Regions from separate parts of the Homo sapiens genome. Here regions 1 and 3 are each linked to region 2. The links come from fine-mapping of genetic effects on gene expression. A gene starts in region 2. Each other region holds a variant in brackets. All regions are shown on one strand. Distances are from middle to middle.

Region 1 (2,755 bases), 43 kb before region 2:
CCGGTTGTCACCTGTCCCTAAGTCTCCTTATGTCTGCTGAGGAATTGAGAACTCCTTGAGGGTGTGGGGAGGGCTGGGGCCCTCTAGATATACCCTTCAGGGCAGGACATACAGATGGCATTTTATGTGAACTTATGGCCATGGTCATGTTCTGTACGTGAGGCACATGGAAAAATAGGTGCTAGTTACTTGCCTGGCTAAGGTTGGAAGAGTTATTCTTTTGTGTCCATGGCTAAAAGACCTTCTTCTCTTTTAAAGGTGCAAAGATCGGCACCATGGGCTGCTAGGGGAAAGCAAGCATTTTAGGAGAGAATGGGGAGCAGTGAGCAGGAGCCAAGGCCCCCCTTTGCCAGCCCCCATCCCACCCCTCCTCTTCACTGAAGTCTTCATTTCTCTGTTCTAAATTGCACACATTGATCTGCTGTGTACGATGTTGCAAAGCAAGTTGGCAGGAGTACTGGAGTGTATCAGGTCTACTAGGGAATAAATATACTTGGGTTTTTAGTTTAAATGAGTGGAGAGTTGGGGAGTGGCTTGACAGCCATGGGGAGCCCAAGCGTTGGTTTCCCATCAAACAAACCCCTTTGTAGGTTGGAGCTGTCAGTCAATGCCAGCTCCTGGGTCCCTGCCCCTGGGGACAGGCATCCCCGCCCATGCTGCTGGCCTGCCACTTCGGAGAAGAGGCGAGGGTGGCTAGGTTGCGGGGAGGAGAGTCTTGAACACCAGTCTACCCTCTGCCCATTCAAGGCCTTGTCACTAAGGTAGGAGCCTTTCTAAGGGGAAGGAGAGAGGCCAGGTCCTCTGGGGACAGACCCTGGCCCGAGGCTCTGGGCTTTTCACAGCTGAGTGACCTGGATACAGCCTGTATCCGATGCTTCCTTTTCTGATATTAATATCTTGATTAATTCCAGACCAATTGTTCTTTTTTAAAAAAATTTCCTAGCCTTTGGAAACCACCTACTCTTCTCTGAGAATGACTTTGATTGAAGTTTGAAGTTTCAAGGTTCAGCTGTTTTCAAGTTAGTCGTTATTAGAAAATGTAGCAATTTCCCCCTAGTAAAGAAAGAAAAGGTCCTTCCTCCCTCCGGTCTTTCCCTCCTCCCCTCCCCCATCCCCGTCTCCCCGTCTCCTGGTGTGTCGTAACTTTAAAAAG[G/A]CCTGCAAGATATAGTTATTTATTCTTCTCCATCCTTCCCTCAACTCGATTTTGGGCTGAGGCCAAAACTTGGGGGAAACAAAGAAGCAGCCATCCGAACAGTCTCCTTCAAAGCTCAGTGTTTGCGCTCGATCATGCTGCCTTCCTGATGCTGTAGTCTGAGGGTCGGCGGGAGTAGGGGATGATGAGATGGGGGGGCACGGGGCATGCTCAGCACCCGCCAGTGCATGGGCCGTCCTCAGCCCGTGCCGGCACTGAGTGGTTATGAAAGACCCTCTTGTTCTGGGAGGCAGTCAGTCCGGAGGGAGCCTCCTCGGAAGGTAATTGCCTACTCCCAGGGTTGGCCTTGCTGAAATTTATAGCTCCGCTCAATAAAGCCATTGTGCGGCTCCTTAGGAAGCCATGGGGGTGGATTATTGCTTGGGAGCCAGGAGACATGGAACCCATGCAGGGCCGGGGTCCCCTGCTGGGGCACGTACAGGCTGAGAGGTTGGTGTCCCCACCCCTCCCTCATCCTCCAGGCTGTACCTCTATTCAGAAGGAGGCTGCCGGTACCTTAGTGCCCTCTGGAACGCTGAGCGGCTTGGCCCCGGATCTTGCTCCTGCTCCAGATGAGATGGGGAGGCCCTGGGAGGGAGGTCTTGCTTGGAAAGGATGGACGTAAGGGGCTGGTTCCCAAAAGAGAGCAGGAGCTCTTTCTGCCAGACCAGCTGTACTTCATTAATGAGTCAAGCCAGAGGTCTAACCAATCCGTTGCTACTGGGACTTTCGTTTTTCTCCCCTGGTTTATTTTATTGCTATTCTGAGAGGTAAACATACACATACACCTCAACAACTCCAAGGCATAAAAAAAAAAAAAAAAAAAAAAAAAAGATTGGTTTCAGAAAGCTGGGGAGGTCAGAGCAAATGCCCAAAGCCTAACCTGGAATTTCCCTGGGGGGGCGGATTAAAAGCAGTTGAGCCCCAAGCAGGGATCACCCTGGGTCACCTGACTGACCCCTCGCCTTCAGCCCCCCTCAACTCGGCTGCAGTCTTCTTAGGAGAGCGGACCTGAGTTCAGGAGGCTATGCCTGGAACAAGCAGCTGAGAGGCAGAGCAGGCCTGTGCTACGAGAGGCTGGATGATGGGCCCAGGACAGCCCAAGGATTGAATGCAGAGGCAATGGGAAGAGGGGCAGGTAGAGAGGACCTTGGTGACTCGCAGCAGCGGAAATTCAAGTTTAGGTGGAGGGTGGGATGAAGGACACAGTCCCAGCTCCATGCATTGGCCAGGCAGGGTTGTGAGGTCTCTGCTCAAAGGGGTCCTTGGGATGGGTGTGGGAAGAAGCCTGCAGGTGGGCCCAACCAGTTCAGAGACACTCTGGGAGGCCCAGGCCTGGCAGGAACTCAACCCTTCTTAGGTCTTGCCATTATCAGCACTTATTTGTCCCTTGCCTCAACGAGGCTCAAATTAATCACTCCTGCCTCAAAATTAAAAAGGAAAAACTATAAACAGTCCCACTGATTCATGAGTTCTTTTCAGAGCGGCTGGGCTGCAGCAGCTGCCCAAGGGGAAGTCGCAAGGCATCCCAGCTGGGAGTTCAGGCAGAAGTGGCCTGTGCGT
Region 2 (2,755 bases):
TCAATCTATGCTCGGCTCTGTGGGAATCAAAACAAGCAAAGCAGTAGTTACTGCTTGTGATGACCTTATCTCTGTGGGGGTGGCGGGGGGAGTCAAACAGGCATTTGAAACTATTGGAGAACAAAGCCAGACTCAAGCAAGTATGGGATTGTGTGCAGCAGATTTTAAGTGCACAGTTCTGGTGGATAGGAGAGTCGGTGTGGACTGCAGTGGTCAAGTTAAGTCTGGAGCAGAGGAGTTGCTGGGTGGATATGCTAATCTCAAGCATAAGGCAGGGGAGTTAAGGATGGGGCGCCCAGGGTCCTTTGTGCGGAGCAGGGCAGCTTGGCTACGGTCATCTTTATTTCCTCGAAGGCCAGACAATCTGCGGGGAACGTGGGGAGGGCTCATCTGTTTAGAAGCTGTGCTTTAGGCAAGCTTGAGAAAACATCTGTCCATCCTTGTCCAAAGTGGGTAGCTAAGGACCCCTGGCAGAGAATCACCCATCTTGGGAGCTCTGAGCACCAAGGAGGAAAGCCCTCCGAATTTGAGCGGTGGTTCTCAATGGGAAAGAGAAAAGGAGTTTGCCCATAGCCAAGGGGAGAAGCTGGAGCAGGGTTAACCTGCGGCTTGGGGTTCAGTTGAGCAGGCTGGGCGCCCGGCATGGGAGGTAGAGGTAGGGAAGCTGGGCCTTCCCTTCGTCTTTTCTGCGACCAGGGACGGGTGGCACCTCGTGGTCCGCAGGAATACCTGTGTGGAGGGCTGGGGTTTGGCTCCTGCCGGCTCCTGGAGTATGCTGGGGGTCCACCCCCCGCCTCCCTGCGTCCCCTTCTCCAGCCTCGCCTCCCCAATGCGCTTCCCGCCTCTGCATCGCCGCCGGCCCCTTCACGCCTCTACCTTGGGCGGGTTTGGGGTAAGGGCCGCGCAGACCCTAAGGGAAGGCCCGAGGTCGCCGGAGCTCCTCCTCTCGCGGCTGAGTGAGGGTCTGGGAGGCCAGATGAAGGGAGCTGCTCGGCTGAGCTGCGGACCAGCGCGAGAGCAGCGGGCAGTGGCGGACCAGCGCCAGGGCAGGGCAGGGGTGGACAGAGGGCTCTCCCCACCCTTCCCTCCTCCAGTGAAAGTACCAGAAGAGATGGCGGCCGCTCCGCCGAGTGTCATTACCGCGGAAGCAGCAGAAGCCGGCGGCAGGAGCGGGCCCGAGAGCCCGCGGCCAGTGGCCTGCGCACCCCGCGCCCAGCGCCCCCGCCGCGGGTCATCAGTGTCAGCGTTGAGGGGTCCCGGGGAGCGGTTGCAGGGCGGCGGCGGCGGCCGGGTCATCAGAAGCACAGTGGAGCCGCCCCCTGCTTTGGGAGGAGCAAAAGAGCCTCTCGCTTGCCTCCCGCTCGAGCTCCTTCTCCTCTTCCTTTTCCTAGCGCTTCTCTCCCTCCCTCGGCGGGGTCCGCAGAGACAGCTGGGCAGGCGGAGGCTGCGCGCCTCTCGCACCTCCACGCCCACCCTCCCGCCGCCCCCCCCTCGGCCTGAAAGATCTGCGTCCACACCACCCTGCACCCAGGGCCCGTCAGGTTTTGCAGAAGTTTGCTGAGGGTCCTCACAGGGGGTCTCCCAGGGGAAGGGGTGGAGGGCTGGAGGGGCCGCGGTGGGAAGAGGTGGCAGACGCCGCCTGGCAACGGAGACCCTACCCTTTCTAGAAATTCAGAACGCAGAGAAACCAGTGCCCAGCCCTGCTCTTCAGCAAACGGTGTATTTCAGCCCGAGTTTCCTTCCGGGGGTTTGGCTGTGAGTGTGTGTGACCTCCCAGATGGCGGCACGGTTCAGATCCCATGCTCCCTCTGTTTCACAGCTGCCAGAGACAGACTCAGGGATTCCGGGCTTTGGAAGAAGGTCAGACCATGACCTCCTATCTCCTGTTCTCTTCTCCCCTCACTCATCACCCGCTGGCCACCCCACTCTCTGCACCCCACCATGCATGCTTACTGTAGACCTAATCACTAATTAGCCCAAGGGTTGACTGAGCGTGCTGGTGAGAGTAACAGGAGGCAGGTGGATGGGGAGGTGTGATGCTGCGCGCATAGTAGGTGCTGAAAACATGCAAGGGCACGATGCACATAAGCTAGACAGAGCCCTTGGTCCTGCTGGGTGCTGGGGGAGTGAGATTCAGAGCAGCAGACCATCAGCCGGGTAGACAGAGGTCATGGCCCCAGCAGCTCAGCCCCATTAGCTAGGCTGGTGGGAGGCAGCCAGTGCTTTTGAGGGCTCAGACAATCCCTGCGATTCAAGGGCTGCTCTTTGGAGCTGCTGCCAAACTAATCTCAGGCCTGCAGTCTTGGGCCTTTCCTTTAGTCTCAGCCCACTTGCTGACTCTGCCCTTCAGAGGAGGCCCACTGCCTCCTCCTGGGGCTGAGGATTAACCCCTAAAAACTGAGTTTTGTTTGCAGAGCTATCTCCAAAGCTGAGGGAGCCTCTGGAGTCTCCTGTTCTTGCTGCTTGTTGACTAGGGGGATCCTTGAGGTCAGATGGTGCTGGCAGCAGCTCAGCCCCTAGCCCCAGACACATATTCAGTCTGCAAATACAGCAGGAAATCTTTCTCACCTGGCCCAGCCATCAGTCCTGGCTTGCCCAGCCCTGCAGGGCACTGCCTAGTAGGCCTTTTCCTACAAGCTCAGCCCCACCCAGCTACGGAGCCTGCCCTAATTGGGCTAGGAGGGCACTAGCACCTCCCTTTTACTGGTAGGGGAAGTGCTGTACTCAGATGTCTGCCCACAGATTCAGGATCCAG
Region 3 (2,755 bases), 51 kb before region 2:
AATGCAGGCTCATTTACATTTTACATAGTCTAGTGGGCATATTAAAAAATTAAAAGAAACAGGTATCCCTGTAACACAGGCTGTCTACATAAATAATCACATTACAATGGTACTTCAGTGCATAGAAAAAAATCATTCAAACAGAATCAATTCATTGATACTGATATTGCCAGTGATGTGTTTTTAATACTAGAAATGACACATGTTCCCCAACACATGTACTATAGCATAGCAATAACATTTTATGGGATGTGATGGTTAAAGTGAAATGTGGTTCTATCAAAACAATAAAGCTGTGTTGAATACAAAAATAGTTTACACCGCTTTCAATTTTTTTTTTTTTTTTTTTTGAGACAGTCTCGCTCTGTCACCCAGGCTGGTGTGCAGTGGCACGATCTCAGCTCACTGCAAGCTCCGCCTCCTGGGTTCACGCCATTCTTCTGCCTCAGCCTCCCGAGTAGCTGGGACTACAGGCACCCGCCACCACGCCCAGCTAATTTTTTTTGTATTTTTTAGTAGAGACGGGGTTTCACCGTGTTAGCCAGGATGGTATCTATCTCCTGACCTTGTGATCCTCCCGCCTCCACCTCCCAAAGTGCTGGGATTACAGGCGTGAGCCACCGTGCCCGGCCACTGCTTTCAATTTTTAATTTAAATTAAATAAAATTAAAATTTCACTTTCTCAGTAGTGCTAGGCACATTTCAAGTGCTCAGTAGCCGCCTGTGGCTTGTGGCTACTATGTCAGACGGTGCAGGTTGAGCATCTACCCAAAATTCATCATGATGGAAATGCACTTTCTGTGTCCTGAACAAAGAGAAGAGAAGTCAGACTGGAGGAGAGGGTCTGTGCAGAGGCGAGGTGGAGAAAGAGGCTGGGATGGTGTGAGGGGCTCATAGGAGAGGGAAAGCACTGTTGATTTTCGAAACGGAAAACCGTATGACGAGAATGGCGCTTTGAGAAGATTCGTCTGGATGCATCGAGCAAAGTGGGTGGTAGGGACACAGATTAGAAGCAGGAAGACCAAATGCATGGGGATGGGAGATGATGAGGCCCTGAACAACAGTGAGGGTGGCCAGAAAATGAAAAAAAAAGAAGTACCTGAGAAAGATGATGAAGAGTTACTATGACGAGTCAGTGAATGAATAAGGGGAACAAGAAATGGGGAAGAGGTGAAGATGACCCTGAGGTTTTAAGCCTCAGACAACGGAAAATGGTAACACCACTGATAGAAACAGGGAAGTCACGGGCAGACATGCTGGGGCTGGGCGGGGTGGGGTGGGGGCGGGGGAGGAGATGTAGGATCAGTTTTGTTTTGAACAGGCTGATTTTGTGGTAATCTCTTCCACGGTTTCGCCTC[AT/A]TTTTTTTTTTTCTCTCCTTCCTGACTTTTCGTCCTCTCTCTTTCTCGCCCCCTCCTCCCCTCTTTCCTCTTTTCATTTTCCCCTTTCTTTCCTGCCCCCTTCTTCTCTTGATTGATCACTTACTTATCATGCACTAGAGACAAATAAGTTTAATGGGCATTTCCCAGGCCTGAGGAAGAACCATTGAGAGGGGTCGGGTGCACGTCTTTGTCAAAGACAACAAAATAAATAAAACGTCCCTTTTTGCTGTTCCTGGCGTAACTGTTGGAATCTGGCCTGGTATGGGGAGTGGAGGTGGCAGATGAAAGGAGAACAAAAACAGTTCATGAGTATTGACTGCATGTGTCAGGCACGGTTCTAAACATTTGTGACCAGCATCTTACTCAAGGGCATTAATTCCCATTTAGCAGGTGAGGAAAGTAAGGCAGGGGCGTGATGAAGTGCCTCACCTAAGGGAACACAGCTGCTAGGTAGTGGGGCGGGATTTTACTTGCCCAGCGTTTCTGAGTATCCGCCCTGAGCTAGGTAAAAGTGGCGGTCACCTTCCCTTCTTGAGGGGTACCTCACTTCTCCAGATCTTTCTGAAAGGCAGGCTCTTCGAAGCCCCTGGGAGGGTTTTCCTTCCACAGGTGGGCTTAGTGACCCAGCAGGGCCTGGAGCTTATGTGGGAAGCAAAAGACCTCTTTCCTCCTCCCAGTAGAAGGGAAGGCAAAATAGGAAACACACTCCTCGAGTATCTTTCCTCATTGTTAATCAGGTGACTGCTCCCAGGGATCTGTTTGCTGTAAATGCTGTGTGTTGATGGTGTTGTTCTAATATAGTCACCCACGTGCAAGTACATCCCAGTAAAAAAAAAAAAAAAAAAAAAAAAAAGGCCCTTAAGTGAAATAGGAGATGGGGGGAGGCGATGGAGGGAAGAGGAGATGGGAAATATTGTACTGCTCCTGTACAACAGCTCAAGGGATTTACTCTAGGCTGTCAGCGCCAAGTGAATATTGCTTATTCATGTGCAATCTAATCTTCCCCTCTGCCCAGAGGCTGAGGGCAGCAGGGGTGACCTGGTTGCAGAGGGACAAGGAGAAGATGGGGTCGGAGGGGGGTGGGCTTTCCTATGAGTGCGTGCTCAGGAGGGCTAGTGTTGGAAGAAATTGTTACTTGAATGGCTAGGATGGGTGCAGGGGGCAATGGTGGGGAGGGGGTACATAGGGGATGAAGATGGACTGGTGATCAGACACAGGACCCCTTGGTGGGCTGAGGAAGTGGCGAGGGTTGTGTGGCTCAAACATCTGGGGGATGGGAATTCCAGGAACCCCTCCAGCGTGCTCCCTTGGGAGGATGGTTGAGCCGCAGATTGATGCACACGCCCAGGCAGAGAATGTCTTAATAACCCACTCG

Direction of the effects. Alleles are on the strand shown, and positions count from the first base shown. SD is a standard deviation of normalised expression in the study named. Not every link is listed here.
For the expression in macrophages of the gene that starts at base 1,311 in region 2, A is the high allele of the variant in region 3 and AT is the other (large effect, 0.85 SD a copy in Alasoo 2018).

What was found. PIP is the estimated chance that this variant, and not a neighbour inherited with it, causes the effect.
Region 1: its variant is the best candidate, but not a certain one, in a credible set for the expression of LINC00900 in monocytes (Quach 2016, PIP 0.81).
Region 3: its variant is the best candidate, but not a certain one, in a credible set for the expression of LINC00900 in macrophages (Alasoo 2018, PIP 0.84).

What each region holds. Positions count from the first base shown.
Region 1 is chr11:115,715,597-115,718,351 of GRCh38, forward strand. The region is part of intron 2 of LINC02698 (long intergenic non-protein coding RNA 2698); the gene reads left to right. Among named protein-coding and RNA genes, the nearest start is that of LINC00900, 43 kb to the right of the region's middle. The variant G/A (reference allele first, on the strand shown) is at 1,154.
Region 2 is chr11:115,758,890-115,761,644 of GRCh38, forward strand. It overlaps LINC00900 (long intergenic non-protein coding RNA 900), which reads right to left and starts at 1,311. Exons shown (of 3, transcript NR_034148.1): 1 at 1,141-1,311. All of the region lies in intron 2 of LINC02698 (long intergenic non-protein coding RNA 2698), which reads left to right. RefSeq lists an enhancer at 371-905.
Region 3 is chr11:115,708,305-115,711,059 of GRCh38, forward strand. All of the region lies in intron 2 of LINC02698 (long intergenic non-protein coding RNA 2698), which reads left to right. Among named protein-coding and RNA genes, the nearest start is that of LINC02698, 50 kb to the left of the region's middle. The variant AT/A (reference allele first, on the strand shown) is at 1,359.